Regions from separate parts of the Homo sapiens genome. Here all the other regions are reported to be linked to region 2. The links are microRNA targets in miRTarBase. Many come from high-throughput screens and were not tested one by one. Region 2 holds a microRNA gene; each other region holds the end of a gene's coding sequence.
What was found. Region 2 holds the annotated microRNA hsa-miR-1252-5p (AGAAGGAAAUUGAAUUCAUUUA, at 2,430-2,451, shown strand). A microRNA usually pairs through its seed, bases 2 to 8, with sites in the 3' UTR of a target mRNA and lowers its output. Matches are read on the target gene's strand: a 7mer-m8 pairs with bases 2 to 8, a 7mer-A1 pairs with bases 2 to 7 and ends in A, and an 8mer does both.

Region 1: the mRNA of TMEM214 is a reported target of hsa-miR-1252-5p. Seed matches in the 3' UTR shown: 7mer-m8 at 3,561-3,567.
Region 3: the mRNA of IQSEC2 is a reported target of hsa-miR-1252-5p. Seed matches in the 3' UTR shown: 7mer-m8 at 2,375-2,381.
Region 4: the mRNA of TAF6 is a reported target of hsa-miR-1252-5p. Seed matches in the 3' UTR shown: 8mer at 2,424-2,431.

What each region holds. Positions count from the first base shown.
Region 1 is chr2:27,038,941-27,044,704 of GRCh38, reverse strand. It overlaps TMEM214 (transmembrane protein 214), which reads right to left. Exons shown (of 17, transcript NM_017727.5): 13 at 5,541-5,658; 14 at 4,868-4,964; 15 at 4,507-4,675; 16 at 4,209-4,360; 17 at 3,011-3,994. The coding sequence ends at 3,868. Among named protein-coding and RNA genes, the nearest start is that of AGBL5-AS1, 8.4 kb to the left of the region's middle. RefSeq lists enhancers at 2,973-3,022, 4,696-5,764.
Region 2 is chr12:79,416,832-79,422,595 of GRCh38, forward strand. MIR1252 (microRNA 1252) reads left to right here and starts at 2,426; the gene lies at 2,426-2,490. The region is part of intron 9 of SYT1 (synaptotagmin 1); the gene reads left to right.
Region 3 is chrX:53,231,660-53,235,345 of GRCh38, forward strand. It overlaps IQSEC2 (IQ motif and Sec7 domain ArfGEF 2), which reads right to left. Exons shown (of 15, transcript NM_001111125.3): 15 at 1,217-3,525. The coding sequence ends at 2,560. Among named protein-coding and RNA genes, the nearest start is that of KDM5C, 8.3 kb to the left of the region's middle.
Region 4 is chr7:100,104,714-100,110,053 of GRCh38, forward strand. TAF6 (TATA-box binding protein associated factor 6) reads right to left here. Exons shown (of 15, transcript NM_139315.3): 12 at 5,235-5,340; 13 at 3,654-3,827; 14 at 3,213-3,410; 15 at 2,357-2,910. The coding sequence ends at 2,533. AP4M1 (adaptor related protein complex 4 subunit mu 1) reads left to right here. Exons shown (of 15, transcript NM_004722.4): 8 at 161-227; 9 at 332-385; 10 at 527-633; 11 at 732-826; 12 at 1,246-1,290; 13 at 1,528-1,578; 14 at 1,690-1,801; 15 at 1,945-4,326. The coding sequence ends at 2,169. Among named protein-coding and RNA genes, the nearest start is that of AP4M1, 5.7 kb to the left of the region's middle. RefSeq lists an enhancer at 2,634-3,134.

The DNA of each region.
Region 1 (5,764 bases), not on the chromosome of region 2:
TATGGACTTACATTATGGACGATGTGTCAATGTAGGTTCATTGATTACAACAAATGTACCACAGCAGTATGGGATGTTGATGGTGGGGGAGGCTGTGGTGGGGGCGGGTTGGGGAGGAAATATATGGAAACTCTCACTCAATTTTGATGTGAACCTAAAACTGCTCTAAAAAATAGTCTATTCAGGCCAGGCATGGTGGCTCATGCCTGTAATCCCAGCACTTTGGGAGGGCAAGGCGGGTGGATCACCTGAGGTCAGGAGTTTGAGACCAGCCTAGCCAACATGGTGAAACCCCCTCTCCACTAAAAATACAAAAGATTAGCTTGGCGTGGTGGCGGGCACCTGTGGTCCCAGCTACTTGGGAGGCTGAGGCAGGAGAATCACTTGAACCTGGGAAGCGGAGGTTGCAGTGAGCCGAGATCACGCCATTGTACTCCAGCCTGGGGAACAAGAGCAAAACTCTGTCTCAAACAAACAAAAAAAAGTCTATTCAAAAATTAGTAAGTGATGTGCTAACACAAAAAGAAGTTATATCAAGGCACATCCAACAACACATTCAAAGTCAACATTTGTATTAATAGGCAGAATAGTCAATATTTACTAAATATTCACTCATACCCTGAACAGTGGACACTCCCTCCAAAATCCTTCTTATACCTCAAGTAGAGCACCAAAACTGCCCAGTATAAAGGGAATACACATAGGGAAAAGCAAGGCCCTTTCTCCCCTCAACAACTGTGAAGGGTATGTAGTAAAAACAGATCACTCTAAGTGTCCACTTAAATTTAAACTCCTTTAGGTGAGGTAAGACAACAAAATGCTCAGAGGTCATTGAACCACTGAAATGTCTGTATAGGGCCGGGCACGGCGGCTCATGCCTGTAATATCCCAACACTTTGGGAAGCCAAGGTGGAGGATCACTAGAGACCTGGAGTTTACTGATTATATGAATCAATGAACCTATAATCAATGGGACCAGCCTAGGCAACATAGTGAGGAGCCATCTCTACAAAAAATTTTTAAAAAAGGAGGCGGGCATGGCACGCATCTGTAGGCCCAAATACTCGGGAGGCTGTGGTGTGAGGATCATTGAGCCCAGGATTTTGAGGCTGCGGTGAGCTATGATCACGAACCACTTCACTCCAGCCTGGGCAACAGGGCAAGACCCCGTTTCTTTAAAACAAAAAACAAATGCCTGTGTAATTGACACTGGGTCATTCTGTAACAGGGCAGGGCAGGTGTGCCTGGCTCTGTGGGAAACAACCCGCCCTCTTTATGGTGGTGGCATTTTGTGAATGGACTGACAATGTAGCAGGCATGAGCTCAGCAACACTATCTGCCTAGTGACATCCATCGTAGTAAGTCAGGCTACCCATCAAGCTGCCCTGCTCTAGAACTGAAGTGTGGATTGGATACAAATAACCAGAGAAATCCAGAAATCTGCTGGAGACTTAGGAAAACGAAAGGATGTTTCAAAGTGAGTCATGCATATTATTTTCAAGTCCACAAAAGAACTGGTAATAAAGTTAGTAAGAAATAAACATACTCATAACTGCCCTTCAGCTTTATGGTGTGTTATCGGTTGAACTTCAGCTGTGTGGAGTTACTGTCCAGATGTGTGACTCTCTGAGGTGTCAGCTCCTTTTGGTTCTTCCAATAACAGCAATAGTTACAGTGTGACTGCCCCACCTGTCAGCATCACTGTCCTATGCTGGTTCAATTTACTGGCCCCGCTTGGACTCCTGTTTGTTGACAGCTCTGCAAAAATGAAATGTCTGGACATCTGGTTTTGCTTTAATGCAGAGCAGGTGCGTATTGGACTAGTCCACCACACAGGAAAAATTTCCGACAATTTCAACATTGGGTCAAAAAACTGTATCTATCGAATAAAGTCAATTAAGCTGTCAGTGTTCCTGTAAGTAGAGACCACAATTAATCTAAGTTGATGAAAAATGTTGCTCCCCAGGATTTTAGTGTCAGAAGTTAAATGAACCCAGCAAGGTAAATATAGTCACACATTAGAAGCCAACACAGCACTTGTGGCATCCTTGGTTCGCTGGATGCAGCCTTGGACTTCTACAACAGTTATCACCGAACTTGTCCTCCCTGTGCCATTGTCAACCCATTCTCACAACTGCCACCTTTCTCCAACTCACCTTGAACACAGGCCAGTTCTCCTGCCCAGCAGTCCTAAGACTTTGGCCCTTTGCCAGGTAGTTTCTCTTCTCCAGGAAGATGGTCATGGTTAATTGCCACTAGGAGAGCAAGGGGTCTGCTTGTGGGCTAATTCCAGAGGAAACGTAGCGAACACGAGATGCTGTTGTATTCATGACCTCACTTTGGGTCGATACTTTCCTACATCTGCTACTTTATATTCGAACCACTGAAAAAGCGGAGTGTCTCAGGGCACCGTGTGAGAGGGGAAGTGATAACTGGCCATCATACCTGCTGAGTGTCATGGGAGTTTATGAGGGAAGCTGAATCTGCCTTTGAGAACTGCTAGAGCGTATCTCTAGTACTGCTGACTTGAAACATTTAAGGAAACAAAATTGAGAACTAAGAAACCAGCAGAGTTATCTAACTCCTTATAGTCTCAAGTCAAAAATAAAAAGGGGCTTCGGTGATAAACCTTGGACTCATGTGTCCCTTGGAGTTCTAAATCTTTCACTCACTGCTCTATAAAATGAAGGTCCTGGCAAGGAAAGGACACCTCCTGGTCACTGGCCAAGAATTCCCCTAGGAGACGGCCCCCTGCTTTTCTAAGCGTAAAACTATCAAGGCAAATCTGGGACGTGAATCACAGTGACAAGTCAGACACTATAATTAGGGTAGCAAGAGAAGTGTCTAGAACACCCACCAGGTCAAACTTTAGAACCATGTGTGTGGGCTTCCCCCACCAGGAGCTTAATTACAGCCACGGCTACAGTCTTCAGGAGGGCAAGGGCCCAGGATTTTGTTATTCTGAACCATAACTAGGGGAATTTCTATATGAGGATGCAGACAAGAATGCTAGAAATCAAATCTGTGTCCTTTATTCCACCTGGTAGGGCATACCCAAGAACCATATACTGAGTCCTGTCTCAGGTTGATGGAGGGTTCCCTGGGCCCAAGGCACACAACTGCCTGTGCTCTGCTCTACAGATGATAGGAGGGATGGACAGTGGAGAGAAGCTGAGCCTTGTGACCAAGACCCCCAGCATGATGGGGAATGGAAAGTTGGAAGAAGTAGGACTACAAGGGAGGGGACAGGGAGGGGCTTAGAGGCATTTGGGGCAGGCTGGGCATTTTGAAGTGAGAGGCATTTCCATCCAGCTCCCCATGTCCACTGACAGCCACACCCAGGCTTCAGGTGGAGGTGAGGCTGCTGTTTCCCAATGCGGTGCTATATTCTTCTGGAAGCCCCTTTCCTTCTGCTGTGGCTAGAGCTGTGACCAAGAATGGGAACAGGAGGCTGCTAAAGTCTGGAGAAGCAGGAATCATTTGTCAGAAGAACACAGAAGCCACCTGCTGGGAGTTCTATCTTTTTAGAGATGAGCTGTTTGGGGTTTAGAAATGAGATGGAAGGAAGTGGAAGGCAGAGGGCAAGGGCGGAGTTGTGAGAGGCTACCAGCACAAGGATGGAGGCTGGGGGCCATGTGCAGTAGGGCCAGAAAAGTGTTCAGTGGAATTGTGGGTAGGAGGCTGAGATGCTGCTGGGCCCTGTCCCCACCAAAGATGGAAGAACTGAGGTGGAGGCAACTGGCCACTTGCCTAGGAGAGAACTCAGGCACCAAGTTAAAAAGACTCCCATGAAGAACTGCCACCTTCTACCCGCTGCAGTCTTGGATGGTCTACCCATGCAGAAATCAGTGGCCAGGAAGGCAGGGCCTACTGCTGGGATATCAGGGCAAGTGCCCAGTCCAAGAAAGCCACTGTAATGTCCTGTAGGCAAAGCCAGGTCCAGTGGACAGCCTCACTGAGCTGTGTCTTCATGCAGTCCCAGGTCACCTCACCTCTGGAAGGAAAGTGGAACATTTTTGAGTATGCACGTGAGTAGCTGTGTCAACTTTCGGGGATGAAAGCTTAGACCCACAACCCTCATCCCAGGGTGGCCAGGAATGGGAGCGAGGGGCAGGACAGTGTGGGAGACTGGATAGAGATGGCTTGTCCCTGGGGCCCGGGAATGGGGCTGCTGGGGATCCTGCCGGAGCCCTGGGCAAAGGTCTCACCTGCATGCCTCATGGCAGTGCTCCTGGGCCCAGGCCAGGGCCTCAAGCAAGAGGTGCCACAGTGGCAGCAGCACATTCTGGTGGAAAAGCAGGGGCAGCTCTCTCAGATAGCGGAGTAGCTGATTCACGGAATCGGGGAGCTGGATCTGTAGCTGGACCATGGAGAATGGATGGGGTCAGAGTATCCAGGGAACTGCATCCTGGCCCTAAAGACTCAGGCCACACAGTGCTGCTCCTTTCCCAGAATTCTGCTCCTGGGAAAACCAGCCCCTTATTTGACTCCCTGTCTCTGACTTACCCTCTGAGAGAGACTGGTGAGACTGTCACCAAACCACGCAAGGTGAGAGGCACAGTGGGCAGAAAGGAAGCTGACTGTGGCATTGGTGTGAGCCCAGGCCAGCTGCAAGCTGGGCCGCACCACGGTGAGCAGGTGGGAGCCCCAGAGCGGCAGTGTCTCCCCCAGCCAGCTGTGGAAGATGGAAGTGGGGGAAGAGGGCTCTGAGTCTCCTCAGGCCCACTTAGCTCCCAAGAAACAGCTGGGGAAAGGGAGGCCGTGGGAAAGGAGAATCACAAGCGCTTCCCACTGACTGTCGCCTCCTCCCTGACACCCAGGCCTTCTCTCTTCTGCCTCTCCTCTCCCCTCCCTGGGAGGAGCTCACCTGTAGCCTTGCAGACTGTAGGAGTAGAGCTTGGCACACGCTTGTTGGCTAGCAGGTAAGAAGCCAGATGATCGAAGCAACCGGCCAGTAAGGGAGGCTAAGTAAAGGGGGCCTCTGGTGAGCTGGGAGGTGAGAGGGGCAGGGACTGGGGAGACAGACACTACAGGGCCCAGAGCAGGCACAGCGAGGCGCTGGGCAGAGCTTTGTGTTCTCACAGGGCCACAAAGCCAGCTCCAGGCTGCTGTGGAGGGAGGCATGCAGAGCTGCCCTTCTCCTGCTGGGCCAGGTGTGCAGGAATGCAGCTGCCGGTTGGAGCCTAGGCTCAGGCTTCAGGAAGCCTCAGGTTGAGGGTCTGCCCTTCTACTTACTAGCTATGACCTAAAGCTAATTGCTACATCTTTCTGAGACCATTTCCTCAGGAGTTAAAAGGAGGTAACACCTACTAAAATGATACTATGAATATGCAAGCACTTCTATACTGCGAAGTCCTAGTCCAATCTGAAATGGTAGTGTCATATCTGTGGACAAAAAAATCTGTCTGTAAAGTGTTTACTCTGCAGGATTGAGAACTCGTCAGGACAAAGATGTGTGCTGCTGGGGGCGGGGTGGTGGTGCTACGTGTAGCTCTGTGCCCCGCCCACACCATCCTCCTCGCTTGCCCATTGCTGCTTACCCTGGAAGGAGCTGTGTGACCGGAGGTCATGGCACAGGAAGCCTACAGCGAAGACCAGCAGCAACAGGAGGAGCCGCGTCCAGGGCAGCCGAGGACCCTGAACCTGCTGCAACAGGCCCTGGTGGGAGGGGAGCAGGAGACAGTTGTCAGAAGCGAGGGGCTGGTCTTTGCCTCTGAGGGCAGACCTCAAGCCAGGCCTTCCCGAAAGAGCGTCAAGCCTTCAC
Region 2 (5,764 bases):
TAAAAGGTACAATATACTCTTAAAAATGATTGCACTTTCAAGGAAACATAAAAGAATAGCTTCTTTTTTGGCCAGTAAGAAAACTGAAGCCCTGTGTAGTCATAAATAGCAAAAATACAACGAAAATCCTAATATGTGTGTGTGTGTGTTTTCTCTTCTTCAAGATTCCTATAATATCTAACAATGATATATTTGTAACTTACTCTGAATTGCAAAGCATGTATCAATTGTCAGTTATCAAAAGTGTCTCTGAAAATTTGAGGTAGCAAAAAACAAAGAAACAATGAACATGTTCATTTAGTCTTCCCTGCTTTTACAATTTGTCATTGAAACCTGTGTCTTCCTCCTAATCATATTTTCTTAAATTGTACTTTTATTTAGGATTTGGTGATTGAGAGTTTGCGTTTTCTGTTTGCTAGTTGATTGCTTAGGTGGCCAGGTGGTTGGTTTCTCTTCATCCAATTGCATACAATGTATTTCTAAAAGGATTTTTAAGGAAATGTGGAATATCATGTAGTAATATGCCCTGTTGCTCATTCCTCCTAAATCTCTCTCTTATCTCCACCTCTGCCTCCTTTCCCGCAACCTGCCTTGGTTTAGGCCCTCACCACTTCTCTACTGATGACAACAGCCTCTCAAAGCCCAGCCCCCTTGGCTCCTGCCTTGACGTTACTACCAATGGCCTCATCCTAAAGCAAAAATCTCATTATGCCTCTCTCCTGTTTAAAATATTTAATTGGTTTTAATTAGCTTCTCACTACCTTCATGATGAAATTCGAATTCCTTAGAATGCTCTGCAAGCCCTTTCATGACAAGGTCCAGGCCTGCCTCTCCAAATGGCATCACTTGTAAATGGCATCATTTACCCTATGCTCCAGCAGTAATAACACTATGCATTCACACAGGGGAGGTTTTGTGGGTGTCAGTGCTCTCCCTGAACTGTCATCATAGTATCCCCCCACTCCCACCCCCCACTTCAACCTGGAGAACCTCTAAAGTTGTGCTTTTCTGTTTTTCTTTTGCATATCATGTCCTGAGAATCTTGTTAAAAAGACTTTACTTCTGTGGGCCTAAGATGGGGCCCGATGTTCTGCATTTCTAATCAGTTCCCAGGCAATGCTGGGAACACATATTGAAGACAAAGCTGAAAAACCTTACTCTACCGTTACTCCCTCTGTGAAAAACTCTCCTGCAAAGCTGATCTACACAAAGCGTCCTCTTTCTAATGTTTATGACTTGTATATAGAACATGTACAGGTCTTCTTAGATGTCTCATGTCTTATTTAATTACTTGGTTATAGGTCTGTCCCTGTAATCACTTGTCCATCATCAAGGGCTGGAACAGTGACTGCTGCTCCTTGTAGTCCCAGCGCTAACATTTGGTCCAGATGTATAGGAATTTCCTAGAAGTATTTTGCATGGAAATTAGCGAAAATTTTTCACTTGGTGCCCGAATGATCATTTCATAAGGTGTTGTTAAAAATGTCCACTGGATGGAAGGTTACACTAACTTTTTAGCTCTCAAATTCGTGGTTTTTCTTTATGTTATTGACAATCTCTCCAATGGGGTTTTGGTTAGGGGGAGGCTTAAAAGTAATTGATTTATGATTCTTTTAACCAACATGTAAGTCAAGAGGCTGGCCAAGAGTTTGAAGAGCCCGAACCTGTTAGACAGTAAACCAATTATCTTTGTGACCTTGTGGGTGACTTCACCACCCCCACTGCATAGCACAGCCCTGCCTGTTTCCAAAACACCTGGCCTTGCACAAAAGAATGAAGAAAGAGCCAAGGCACAGAGAATATTCTCCAGCAGAGAGTTTGGGCAAGAAGTCTTAAAGATGTCTGAGTAGAGAGACAATTAGTGGAAACAAACATCTGTCCAAGGTCTCTCCCATCATGTCATGAACTTGACAAGAAAGGCCAGCAGTAACTCTTCCAACCGTGGTAACCAATGGCCCTGAAATGTGTTCAATATCAGGTATATCAGAGCCCGAGAGATAAGAGTGGTTTTCAATGCTGTATGCACGTTAGAATCACCTGGGAAGTGATATTTGTAAAATATGAACACCTGAGGCCCCACCCCAGAACAGCTAATTCAGAATTTCTGGGGGAATGGCCAAGGGGTCAGTAGATTTTAAAACTCAGGTGATTATACTGTGAAGCCAGAGTTAACAACCACTGATAGAGGGTAGTACCTTCTTCCCCTATAGGTGCCTCAGAAGTGAACATCTAACTTCAGCTTACACATCCCACTAATTGACCACTGAGTCTTACTTATTTTAGGCAAAACGAAACCAATAGAAAGTTTTGCCTTTTCTCTATGTAGAAGGGACTAATGATTCTATAAGAATTTTTAAATTTCTACTCACATTTCCCATCACACAGTTGTTGAGAAATTGGTAAGTTGAGAAAAAATGTGAGGTGTAGAAAGAAGGAAATTGAATTCATTTAGAAAAGAGAATTCCAAATGAGCTTAATTTCCTTTTTTCTAAATCTTAATAATCTACCTTGCTTTTCTTCTCCTTCCACTGCACCCTTTCTCCATGAATTCATCAGTCATAGTGGTAAGCTCACAGTATCCGGCAGCAGGTCAGGTGGGATCACACTGGCTAACAAAGGATCTGAGGGTACAATGCAGAAGTTGCCAGATAATGGGATTCAATTACATTTCTAAGCATAGACTTCTCCAGTGTTGGCTGTTACACTGCCCAATGTGGAAAAGCACTGCTTTATCTACATGGCAAGTGCTTCATACATTTTAGTTGAATCTGACTCGGAGTACCTCAATTTTTTTAATGAAATATTTGAGGTCTACAATAGTAAGTATAAATAATAATATAATGAAGACTCTTGTACCTATCACACTAAAGAAATAAAACCTAACATCTATAATCAAAATAGCCTATGTCCTCTTTATCTCCTTTCTCTCATTCTCTCCTCAGAGGTAACTGTTACCTTGAATTTATGATTCCCAACCCTGTTTTCTCATTTTGTTTGTCATTCCAATGTATGTTTTTATGACACACACAGTTTTGGTTTTGTATGTTTTCAGCCATATAAATGGCACTTTACTGTATGTATTTTGTGCATTTTCAAGCTTTATATAAATTGTATCATATATCCTTCTGCAACTTGACTCCATATTTCATTCTTGGGATGTATCTGTGTTGATTAAAGTAACGTTGTTACTTTTTATTGCTGTATAACATGCCATGGTAGGTAAATACCCCAGTTGGTCAGCTAATGGATTTTTGAATTGTTTCTAATCTCTTGCTGTCACAGACAATACAACATAGCTCCTTGTGCAAATGTGGGTGAGTATTTCTAGATATTTACATAAGAGTGGGATTGCTGGAATGTAGGGTATGCACAATTTTTAAATTTCCTAGATGTATTAAATAACACCCCAACCAGAAGTGTGTGAGCTTTCCTATTGCTCATATCCTTGCCATGTTGGCACTGTTAGACTTTTAAATGTTCAGCCAATTTTAACTGGTGAGTTTTCCCTTAAAAACCCTGAAGAGGGCAGCATATCCTGGTAATTGCTGCATCTTATACCTGCATTCCAGTTTATGGGTCCCTCCCTTCTTTACTGGTTGAAATCCTTTGACCTCAGTTACTCTTCAACCCACTCTCTCACCTCAGTCAGCTCTGGGCAGTATCTTAGAAGGACAGACAATATAACACTATCTCAAAGCTGAAAGTTACCTCCAGCTTTTTCATTCCACATTCCTGGCACACTTCTGTCCTCTGACAAGGAGGAGGTAGGGAAACAGAAACAAGTCAGTCTGGAATTAAAACACTTTTTCCAGTTCAAAGTAGCACAAGAGAGATATGATGTGAGTAGAGAGTAGTCTTCCACCATTCTAAAGCAGTGGTTTGTAATCTAAATAGAAGGGCATTGCACACTATCAAAAACTATGCTTATGTAAATGGGAGAAATACTGAGAAGTAGGAAAAAGTATTGCAAAGTGGTAGTAGCATTGTTTTTCTTCTAGAATAAAAGATATTTACTCCTTTGCCTTCTCAGTTACATTGTTCCTGGTTCCCTAAGGAAAAAAAAAGTGTTCAGCTTCAGAACATCTCCTAGAATTTCTCTCGTTTAATACCAAGCTAAAGTCCTGCCACTTCCAGAGTTCCACAGTGGGAATGCAACCTTCACAAAGATGCTTTCCTTTAAACAAAGCAGATGTGAAATTGAGCCATGCTTAAAGATTTGACATGGCTGCTTTAGGAGGGAATTTATTGTTAGTACTTTCAAAGTAGACCTAAAAACACCACTCTGCTTTTTTTATTCCTGAACTGGATTTTAAGATCGTATTGCTTTAAAATAAATGAATGAATAAATAATAACATTTTATTTTGGGGAGGAGGAAGTAGAAAAATAAATATGAATTGTTTTGGAATTGATTGCTATTTTGAGTTATTAAATTGTTTTCCCATCCATTGTGGTAGATGAAACTTCCTCCAAATGAGATCTGCTGCTTTTTCATTACTGTCTTGAACTCTTTTATATGCTGGTGTGTTTTATAAATTTCTAAGGTGCGCCATTTAGAGAGTCTGTGCTTCTGAACTGTTTGACCATAGTTTCCTTGTTCAAGGAACACCTCACTGGAGTTCAAAGGTCACACTTTGGAAAAATGCTAGCATAGCTATTCTAAAGGTGGCTACACCATCATTACTAACCATTCTGGCCAGAAATTCACAAGACCCAATTATATGTCATCTTGACTGAAATTCTTTCATGATAGAATATCTGTCTTGACATGTTGGTTGGTATACATATTGCTCTTGCATTGAATGCTGTTATGGAGACATTTGAAGCCAGTCTAATTTTTGCTTTATCCAATGTGACACTTTTTTTGTTTTTTTGTTTTCTGTTTTTTTTTTTTATTGTTGGTGGTGGTGGGTGTTTTTGTTTGTTTGTTTGTTTTCTCAAATTCCCAAGGAATGTCTTTATACTTGAATTGTAAGTATTCAATCAGGGCTGTGTTAAGCATTCTGTTACCAGTATTTCCTAGAACATGGTATGTTCTTTCAATCTATAAATGTGGTTATTCTTTCTCTTTAGTGAAATTTCCTTGTGTGGTATTTGTGAATACTTTTCCTGTTCCATTTATTGAAACTTCTCCTTCAGGGACATCAATTTCCTCATGTTAAGTGCTTTTGAACTCCAATCTGTCACCTTCTAATTCCTTTGGTTCCCTTGTATTTACAAGCCATTCCTCGAGGCCGGTAATTTTATTTGCAGCCATGTTTATTTTGTTCCTTGCTCTGTCACCTTTTAAAAATTCACTCTATAATATTGTTTTTGTACTCAGCCTCCTTAGTTCTGTAACCTTCCTGGGGTTCTGTCAACTCATCTTTGAGCTCTTGTTTTTCTGAGTTCATGTTCTCATTAACTTGATTCATAGTACAAAGCACTTCTGAGGAATTTTGTTTTGTTCTTTGGACTATGTTTTCTTTAAAAGAGGGAGTTTCATCTTTCTTTTGCATGCTATGTTCCTTTCTTTTAAGGTTGATTGGTTTTGTTTATTTTCATTTGGGAGCATTGCCTTAGCATGTTTGGATGTTTGTCACTGATTTCCCCCATCTTACTCATACCTGAACGCTTTATCTGGATCTTCTCTGTTCTATCTAGTATAGGTGACTTATTGACTCAATTTCCATAGACTCTAACTTTTTTCCCCAAAGCTATGGTTAAAGAACTTGATTTTGGATACCATCCACTTAACTGCAGCCTAAGGAAATGGTGCAGGGAGTA
Region 3 (3,686 bases), not on the chromosome of region 2:
TTGGAAAAATGCAACCAGAATCAAGTTGAAGGTGGGGAAATGATCGTGCAGCTTGGTCCAGCAGGGAAGAAAACTAAAAAATGTTGATTGGACTTGATTCAGGACCCTGTGGGTCTAAGCTCTTCAAACCCTCAAGTCTGGTCCATGAGGCGGCATCAAATGCGTAGGTGGCCCCAGCTGCTGCTTTTGCTAGTTGTCTTCCCTGGGACACCTTTAAACATGCATACAAGGAAGAAAACAAAGAATTGGTCTGAGCTGCTAAGAGCGGGGCCATCCAAACCATTCCCTTTTAGAGGCCATTCCAGATTCTAGGAAGGCAGCAAAAACAGTAACTGAATGCTGCTTCTGGGGACCCTGCTGACTCTAACCAAGAACCATGGCTCAACCCCACTTCTCCTGCGCTAGGCTAAGATCCAGGACATAATCAGTGATGCTAGAAACACGTCCGTTTCGGAGGGAAGAGGTTTGGGAGGACTGGAAAGGGCCCTGGGGCTAGAAGTCAGGAAACCCCATCCTGACTTGCTGAGTGGCCTCGGGAGAGACTCTTCCCTTCTCTCAGCCTGTCCCCTTCTCTGTAAACGAAAGGGAGTCCAGCTCTTTGTTATCTGACATCCTAAGTGTATATGCAGAACTCTTAAAATGTATCTAGCCCTGTGCCTTCCAAATCACTCCCCTACCCTCAAGGATAGAAATGTGGCCAGCCATTGTGGGGATGAGGAGGAGCTCCAAGGCCAGGCCAGGCCAGCCACATCCAGGGTGAGAGGAGATGCCCCAAGAGTGGAAGGAAGCATTCATCCTATGAAACGAAGACAAGGGAACTAACTTGCTCAGCTCTGTCCTGGCTCCTTGGCACCCATTACCCCTGGGAATCATCATATCTCCATGTGGCAATGGCTTATCACCCCAAGTTTTACACTGAGGAAACTGAGACTCAGAGAGGGTGACTCTCCCGAATTCACATGCCTAGGAAGTGAAAACCCCAGGATGTGAACTGGATCAACTCCAAAGCCCATACTCTTGCCACTCTGTCGCACAAACTGTGTATGAAATGAGATAGGAAAACCTCCCTCACTCCCACCTCCCTCCAAGCAAAGCATCTCGTCCACCCAGGTGCCTGAATTTCTACCATTAGCGCATTGCCTCCCTGGGCTAAGGCCTCTCTCCATGGGCTCCACAGTGGGGAAGGGGCGCAGAAGTAGGAGGCAGAGGCAGGAGGTGAGCACAAGGTCTTTTATGAGGCATCAAATATACATTCTTATATACAAGGAGGAAAAAAGACAATGCCTGAACCCCAGCTCCTCTCCATACAGCCCCTCCCACTGCCACCCTCCCCCGCCCCCAAGCCCCAGTGGCCCTGGCCCTTCGTACAGCCAGGGTCCATCTGTCTGTCTATACTGCAGCCCATGGTGGAGAGGGGAGAGGGAGGCAGGAGCTGAGTGAGGAGCTGGATATGCGGGGCAAGAAGAGGAGCTGGGGCTTGTAAAAAATATATTTATAATAAATAAACAGGGCTGCAAAAGGGCTGGAGAGGCAGCGGAGATTCTGACGGACAGAAGGACTCAGGCATTCTGGCTCCCAACCCCAGCTCTGATGGCTTCAATCTCTGCCTCAGGAAGGATATCTTGGGCTCATGGTGGCCCTTTGGGAGCCTCTCTCCCCAGGGCTGATGCTGGGTGCCCCTGCCCCAGCGAGGTGTGTGTGGGTGATATCTGTAAAGTGCATTGTCTTCAGTTGTAGGTGGGGTAGGTGTAAGGGAATGGCGGGGGGGCATGCAATATGGGTGAGGGAGGGCAGTGCCCTTCTCATCCCAGACCTGAGCCCCCCCCAAAACCTGTCTGGACTTTGATCAGGATAAGAACGTTGCAGGGCGAGGCAAGTTCCTGAAGCCGAAGAGGTCTGGGCTGGGGCCTACTGGAGAAAGGGCATAGACTGGCTCGAGAGAGGAAGCACTGCCCCACGTGGGGCCAACACAAGCAGGGTCCCACCCACCAAGTGCATCAATGGTCCGTGTCCTCCAGCAGGCAAAAAGACACATGGAAGTGTGTGGCCAGGCCCTGAGGTCAGAGAGAGGGCCAAGCCAGCTGAAGTTTGGCCACAACTCTACAGAGCGCTCTCCTAGCCCCACACGGCCAGAGGAGCCCCAGGGAAGCCTTCACCCCGACAGCTCCGGACACCTGCCCTTCTCCGCCAGCCAGAGCTCACAGAGAGCTCACACAGGCCCAGAGGTCTGAGGCCACAGAGCTAGACCTCCAGGGAAAAGTGGGGAAGAAGAAGACGGGAGAAAGAGTACGAGGATCTCTGGAAGGCCCTCACCACTCCCCAGCGCTGGAGCACCCTGAGTCCAGGCTTCAAGTGGCAAGGATCCTCGAATCTGGAAGGAAACCCCATGGCAACTGCTGGGGGTGAGAGGACGGGTCCCAAGGCAGGGAGGACATGGGGAGGAGGACATTGCTATGTGTATATATATTTTTGAAAAAACCGAGGAAGCAAAGAGGGTGCAAGGTCCCTCTCCTGTGGCTCCCCAGACTTTCCTGTTCCCCAGCTCACTCTCTCCATTCATCAGACCACGGTGCTGATCCGGCTTGGCTTGGCCTTGGGGTTTGCACTGGGGGGGTTGGCTGTGCCAGGGGGCCCAGAGGCGTGCAGCGGGCCATGGGGGGAGGTGGGTGGAAGGGGTGAGTGCGGGGTGTGAGGGGAGGGTGGGGGGAGGGGTGGATAGGAGGGGTGGGGTGGGATGGGTGAGTGTGGTGACAATGGTGACTGGGGGTGGTGGGGGTGGGAGTAGGAGCCCCCTGGTGGCCGGGATCCAGGGCCCCCAGCCGCGCCTGCTGCTGGCATCATCTGTGGGTGGTGGCTGAAGATGAAGTGCTTAGGGCCCTGTTTGTGGGCTGGAGGGTGCTGGGGGGCAGGACTGTACAGGGGCAGTGGGGATGTGGGCTGGTGCAGGGGGTGGCGGCCATGTGGAGCAAACTGAGGGTGTCCTCCAGCCCCCCGTCTGGGTGCCCTGCCTGGCCGGCCCAAGGTATAGTGTTGGGGCCCTGGGACTGGGCCATGGGCGTGGAAGTGGCGATGTGGCCCCACAGGTGGGGCTGAGGCGGGAGGCGGTGGAATGGAGCCCAGCTGGGGCAAGGGTGGGGGCTGCTGGGGAGGTGGGGGAAGAGAGGGCTGCTGGGGTGGGAGGTAGGGTGGCGGGGCAGGGCCCGGTCCTTGGCAATACTGGGCATGCAGGGCCTGGAGCTTGGACTGCCCATCAGGCAGCACCCCCAGGCCACCGTGGCTATGGCCATGATGGTGGTGGTGGTGGTGGTGGTGCGTGGAAGAAGCAGATGAAGAGGAGGCAGAGGCCTGGCCTGTTGGCGGTGGTGGCATCTGGAAGGGCCCCTTGCCCCGCTTGCTTCCAAATAGGGAGCCCAGGAAGGATGAGGAGTTGGAGACGGGCCTCTGGCTCTTGTACTCCTCTGGCGGCGGGGGTGGGGGCGGAGGTGGCATCCTCTGGTGAGGGCGTGGACTGCTAATAACAGACCCCTGGAAGCGGGGAGGGGGGAAGTCAGGCCAGGCTAGATGCCCTAAACCCCCAGCCCTAAATTCCACCCCTGTCCCTGAGGGCTGGAGCTGGGGAGACAGCAAACCCCAAGTTGTAATAAAAACCAAATCACAGTCCGGTACGCGTATGTGGAGCTCCCCAG
Region 4 (5,340 bases), not on the chromosome of region 2:
CTAGCTACTTGTGAGGCTGAGGCAGGAGAATGTCTTGAACCTGGGAGGTGGAGGTTGCAGTGAGCCGAGATCACGCCACTGCCAGCCTGGGCGACAGAGCGAGACCGTCTCAAAAAAAGAAAGAAAAAAAGACTCTAACCTTGACGCCCCTGCCTCTCAGGGATCCCTGCTGAAGGTGGATGTGCAGGGAGAGATTCGGCTCAAGAGCTTCCTTCCTAGCGGCTCTGGTGAGGCATCTGCAGGCAGGACCAAGGGTTGGGGTTAGGGCGGGTTCCTTGGTGTCTTAAACCATGGCATTGCTGAGCTCTCCTGATGGTCTCTCCTCCGACAGAGATGCGCATTGGCTTGACGGAAGAGTTTTGTGTGGGGAAGTCAGAGCTGAGAGGTGAGGAGAAAGTGGGTCTTTCTCCCCTTGGAGTAGGTCATTGCCAGAGTTCATGGAGAGAAGTCAGACAGAGCCTCCCCTCTCCTTGCTCCTCTCCCAAAACAGGAGTCAGGAGAGAAGTCTCTCTCTCTCTCTTTCCAGGTTATGGGCCAGGAATCCGGGTCGATGAAGTCTCGTTTCACAGCTCTGTGAATCTGGACGAATTTGAGTCTCATCGAATCCTCCGCTTGCAACCACCTCAGGGCGAGGTCAGGGTTGGGGTGGCCTCATAAATTCCGTCCACCATGGGGAAGGGGGCAGTGGGGTCGTGAGACCAAACTAACCTTGTTGCTCTCTGGTCTCTCAGCTGACTGTGATGCGGTACCAACTCTCCGATGACCTCCCCTCACCGCTCCCCTTCCGGCTCTTCCCCTCTGTGCAGTGGGACCGAGGCTCAGGCCGGTGAGACAATTTCCTGGGTTCTAGAACTACCTTGGAACCCAAGCCAAGACCTGTATGTTCCCAAGACTCACTGCAGAGTGGGGGTGGTGGTAGTGGTGATGGAGTGCAAATTGGAAAAAGGCTTGGGTTGCGGCCGGTGGCTCACACCTGTAATCCTAGCACTTTGGGAGGCTGAGGCGGGAGGATCACTTGAGCCCAGGAGTTCCAGACCAGCCTGGGCAACATAGTGAGACCCCATCTCTCTGAAAAAAAAAAAAAGGAAAAAGCTTTGGCTAATGGAGTTGGGCTGGGCTTCAGCCCTTTTCCCTCTTGGGAGTACAGCCCACACCCACACAGCCCCACATGGAGGTCCCTGGTGGGGAATGGTGAGATGCCAGTAGAAGATGGCCTGAGTCGTGGTGTTTTACCCTCTCATCCAGGCTCCAGGTTTATCTAAAGTTGCGATGTGACCTGCTCTCAAAGAGGTAAGAGTGAGGCTGGCCTGGCTGAGTTCAGCTCTATGGGACGGAAGACAGGGCCAGGGCACCTGCTGCTTCTCCCTTCAGATGCAGCTGCCAGCCTCAGAAGCCAGTTAAGGTAGAGGCTGTAGAATTTGGGAAGGTGGGGGGCACCTGTGCTGAAATCCTGTTATGACATTGAAGAGGAACAGGACAAGGGACTGTGCCTTCCTGGGGCTGACTTTGTTCCCGTCTCCTCTGTAGCCAAGCCCTCAATGTCAGGCTGCACCTCCCCCTGCCTCGAGGGGTGGTCAGGTGAGTGTGTGCACCCACCACGGGGAGATTCCTGGGGAGAGAGTGAGCTCAGCATGACGGGTCTGCCTCAAGAAGGTGCCAAGCCCAGCACCTTCCCTTTCCAAACTCCAGCCTGTCTCAGGAGCTGAGCAGCCCAGAGCAGAAGGCTGAGCTGGCAGAGGGAGCCCTTCGCTGGGACCTGCCTCGGGTGCAAGGAGGCTCTCAACTCTCAGGCCTTTTCCAGGTATTCGCTGTGGACCCCCAGCCCCTCTCCTCCCACATTCACTTGCAGCCCCCACCCCACCCTCCCGAAGCAGCTGCTGCCTGGTTCCCCCAGCGTGGTCAGCTTCTTGCCCTCCTTCCTCTCCCTGCCTCTGCCCCTCACAGATGGACGTCCCAGGGCCCCCAGGACCTCCCAGCCATGGGCTCTCCACCTCGGCCTCTCCTCTGGGGCTGGGCCCTGCCAGTCTCTCCTTCGAGCTTCCCCGGCACACGTGCTCTGGCCTCCAGGTCCGATTCCTCAGGCTGGCCTTCAGGCCATGCGGCAATGCCAACCCCCACAAGTGGGTGCGACACCTAAGCCACAGCGACGCCTATGTCATTCGGATCTGAGGCTCCCCAAACGAGGACACGACGGCCAAGGTGGCAGTTTGTCCCACGGGAGGACAGTCGTTTCTTTTCCAGCCTCCTGGCCTTCGGACTCTGAATCTGGGCAGGAAGAGTCCTCAGTCCCAAGACCAGGAGGGGGCAATGGGCCCAGCCTTTCTGTGGTATCTGATGCAGGAAGGACTGCAGTGGATCAGAACTTACAAACCAAACTTTTATTCTGAGAAACTGGCTGTACAATATCTAAAAAGAAAGTGACATGAAGGAAGCAATCTACAACTTCCTTCCGCTTAGCGAGCATGCATGTGTGTACGTGCACGTGTGTACATGTCTGCATGTGTGGGAATCCGGGGGCTGGCAGGTGGAGCATCACGGAGCAGGCTGAGGGGAGCCGGAGTTGGGCTGGGAGCCATTGGCTTTTGGAGTCCCTGGAGCTGGAGGGGGACTGTCCCCAGCCTCCTGCTTCCCCCCACAAAGGGCACTGCCGCTGAGTGGGGACGGGGACGATGCCGGGGGAGGAACTGGAGAAGGATGGGAGGTGGGGCCTCCTTTGCCCTCCCCTGTTGGGGGAAGTGAGACCACGATGTACTTCTGGACACTCCCAGGACCAGAGGGAGCAGTGCTGGGGGGTGCGGTGGTGGCGGTGGAGACCAACTTGACGATGGGCTGCACGCTGGGGACGGTGGTGGTGACGGGCGAAGTGGTGGTGGAACCTGAGCCGGGGGCCGAGGTGCTGAGGGACAGGACCTGGATAGAAAGGAAAGGCAGGCCGCTTGCCCTGTGCCCTCCCTGCCCCCCAGAGGCCTGGCGAGGACGCTTCACTCGCTCCCTGCCTGAACAAGTTGTTCCTGTAGTTCACCCTGTAGACAGCTATGGCTGGAGACCTTGTTCATGCAGGGCAGCTACAGCCCTGCAGGACCCTGGTGGGCGCCTCTTCCAGCTCTTGACTTGGGGCCCAGAGGGGACTGTGCTCTACTCCTGGGCCTCCCCAGGGTGCTCTGAGGTAACCCAGGCCCTCCAGATGCTCCCTGTCCCACAGCTCTGCATACCTGCTGGGTGGATGGGGCGCTGGAGGACGATGACATTACAATAAACTTGGTTGGAGGAGGGGAAGGCTGTGGTGGGGCAGCCGCTCGTGCAGACACCAGTGTCTGGACAGGAAGTGCGATGGAGCCAGGAACCTTCAGCAAGCCAGGGGTGCGAGGGCCAGGCTGTGGGGCCTGCGAGAGGGTCAGCGTGGGCCGGGGCTGCGGGGAGAAGAGGAAAGGGGGAAGTGGCACCATCTACTAAGAAGAGGAGTCTGAAGGGAGAGGCCTGGGCTCCCCTCGCTCTTCCTCAGTGGCTCTCACTAGGGCTGGGGCATCCTCACTCAGGGCCTGGTTGCCCTGAGACTACTGACTGAGGGCACATGTGGCTGTGTGCAAGTGCCTGTCCCACACAGGGGTTCTCCTCTGCTTCCTCCTATTCCTCCTCCCCACCCGGCCACGGACCTGCGTGATGGTCAGAGTGGTCCTGTTGACCTGCTGAGCCTGCAGAGCAGCCTGGGCCCGAGCCTTGACCACCTGGGAGCAGAGGAGGGGCCCAAGGGACCCGAATTCTGCCCGATAGGCGTCCTGATTGTCAGGCGGTGGGCGCAGCTTTGCCAGAACAGGAGCACAGTGTTTCTGCAGAACAGAAAAAAAGCCAGGTAGAGGGAGGGCTGGGGAAAAAAGCCAGGTAGAGGGAGGGCTGGTGACACTCTTGAGAAGAACCTTGGGGATGGGGTAAAAAAGGACATTCCTTATCATCTCAGTGCCCCTGTTGAAGGCCAAATTATGCTGAACTATTAGTGTGTGTACAGAACACTGTGGGCTTTCTCATAAGAAAAGATGGGCACGGGGCCAGGTGCAGCATCTTAGGCCTGTATCCCAGCACTTGGGAGGCTGAGGTGGGTGGATCACTTGAGGTCAAGAGCCTGGCCAAAATGGAGAAACCTCATCTCCACTAAAAATACAAAAACTAGCCAGGCATGGTGGCACGCACCTGTAGTCCCAGCTACTGGGGAGGTTGAGGTACTAGAATGCTTGAACCCAGGTGGTGGAGGCTGCAGTGAGCAGAGGTTGCATCAGTGCACTCCCGCTTGGGTGACAGAGTGAGACTGTCTCAGAAAAAAAAAAAAAAGAATGGCTGGGTGTGGTGGTTCATGCCTGTAATCCCAGCACTTTGGGAGGCTGAGGCTGGCAGATCACCTGAGGTCAGGAGCTCAAGACCAGCCTGGCCAATATGGTGAAACCCCGTCTCTACTAAAAATACAAAAAATTAGCCAGGCATGGTGGCGCGTGCCTGTGGTCCCAGCTACTTGGGAGGCTGAGGCATGAGAATTGCTTGAACCTGAGAGGCAGAGGTTGCAGTGAGCCTGAGATCGCACCACTGCACTCCAGCCTGGGTTACAGAGTGAGACTCCATCTCAAAAAAAAAAAAAGAAAAGAAAAAGAAAACATGGGCACTAATGTGTGAATGAACTTGCTAAATACTGTGGCAGGATGGTTAATCAAGAGCGCATTTGCCTTGTACAGAGAAGACCACAGAGTAACAGGAGCATTGGGGAAGGATGGTCCAAATGCCACAGGCTGAGCGTGTTAAACCCTTCTTTTTTGGGGGGCGGTGGTCTCCCTCTGTAACCCAGGCTGGAGTGCAGTGGCACGATCATAGCTCTCTGTAGCCTTGAACTCCTGGGTTCAAGCAATCCTCCCACCTCGGCCTCCCTAGTAGCTGGGACCACAGACACGTCACCACTCCCGGCTTTTTGGTTTTTTTTTTTGCAGGTGGGATCTCGCTACGTTGTCCAGGCTGGCCTCATACTCCTAGGCTCCCAGAGTGCTGGGATTACAGGCAGAAGCCATCATGCCCAGCCCCCTTATTTCTTACTCAGTCTAATCTCAGTCTTTCCATCTGTAAAATAGTATCAGACTCTGCAATGTCCTCTGAAAACATGAGGCAAAGATGGGAGTAAGTGAATAAAATATGCCATATGCTTGCTAAACACTGCCTGTGTCTCAGTGGGCAGGTGTGGGGACAGGGGCTTCAGTCACCAGCAGGAGGCTCTGCACATGGTCTGCTCCAATCCGGTCAATGTTGCTCAGCACAGGGCCGTCCAGCACACTGCGGATCCGCTCCCCTTCCTGCTGCAGCCGGGGC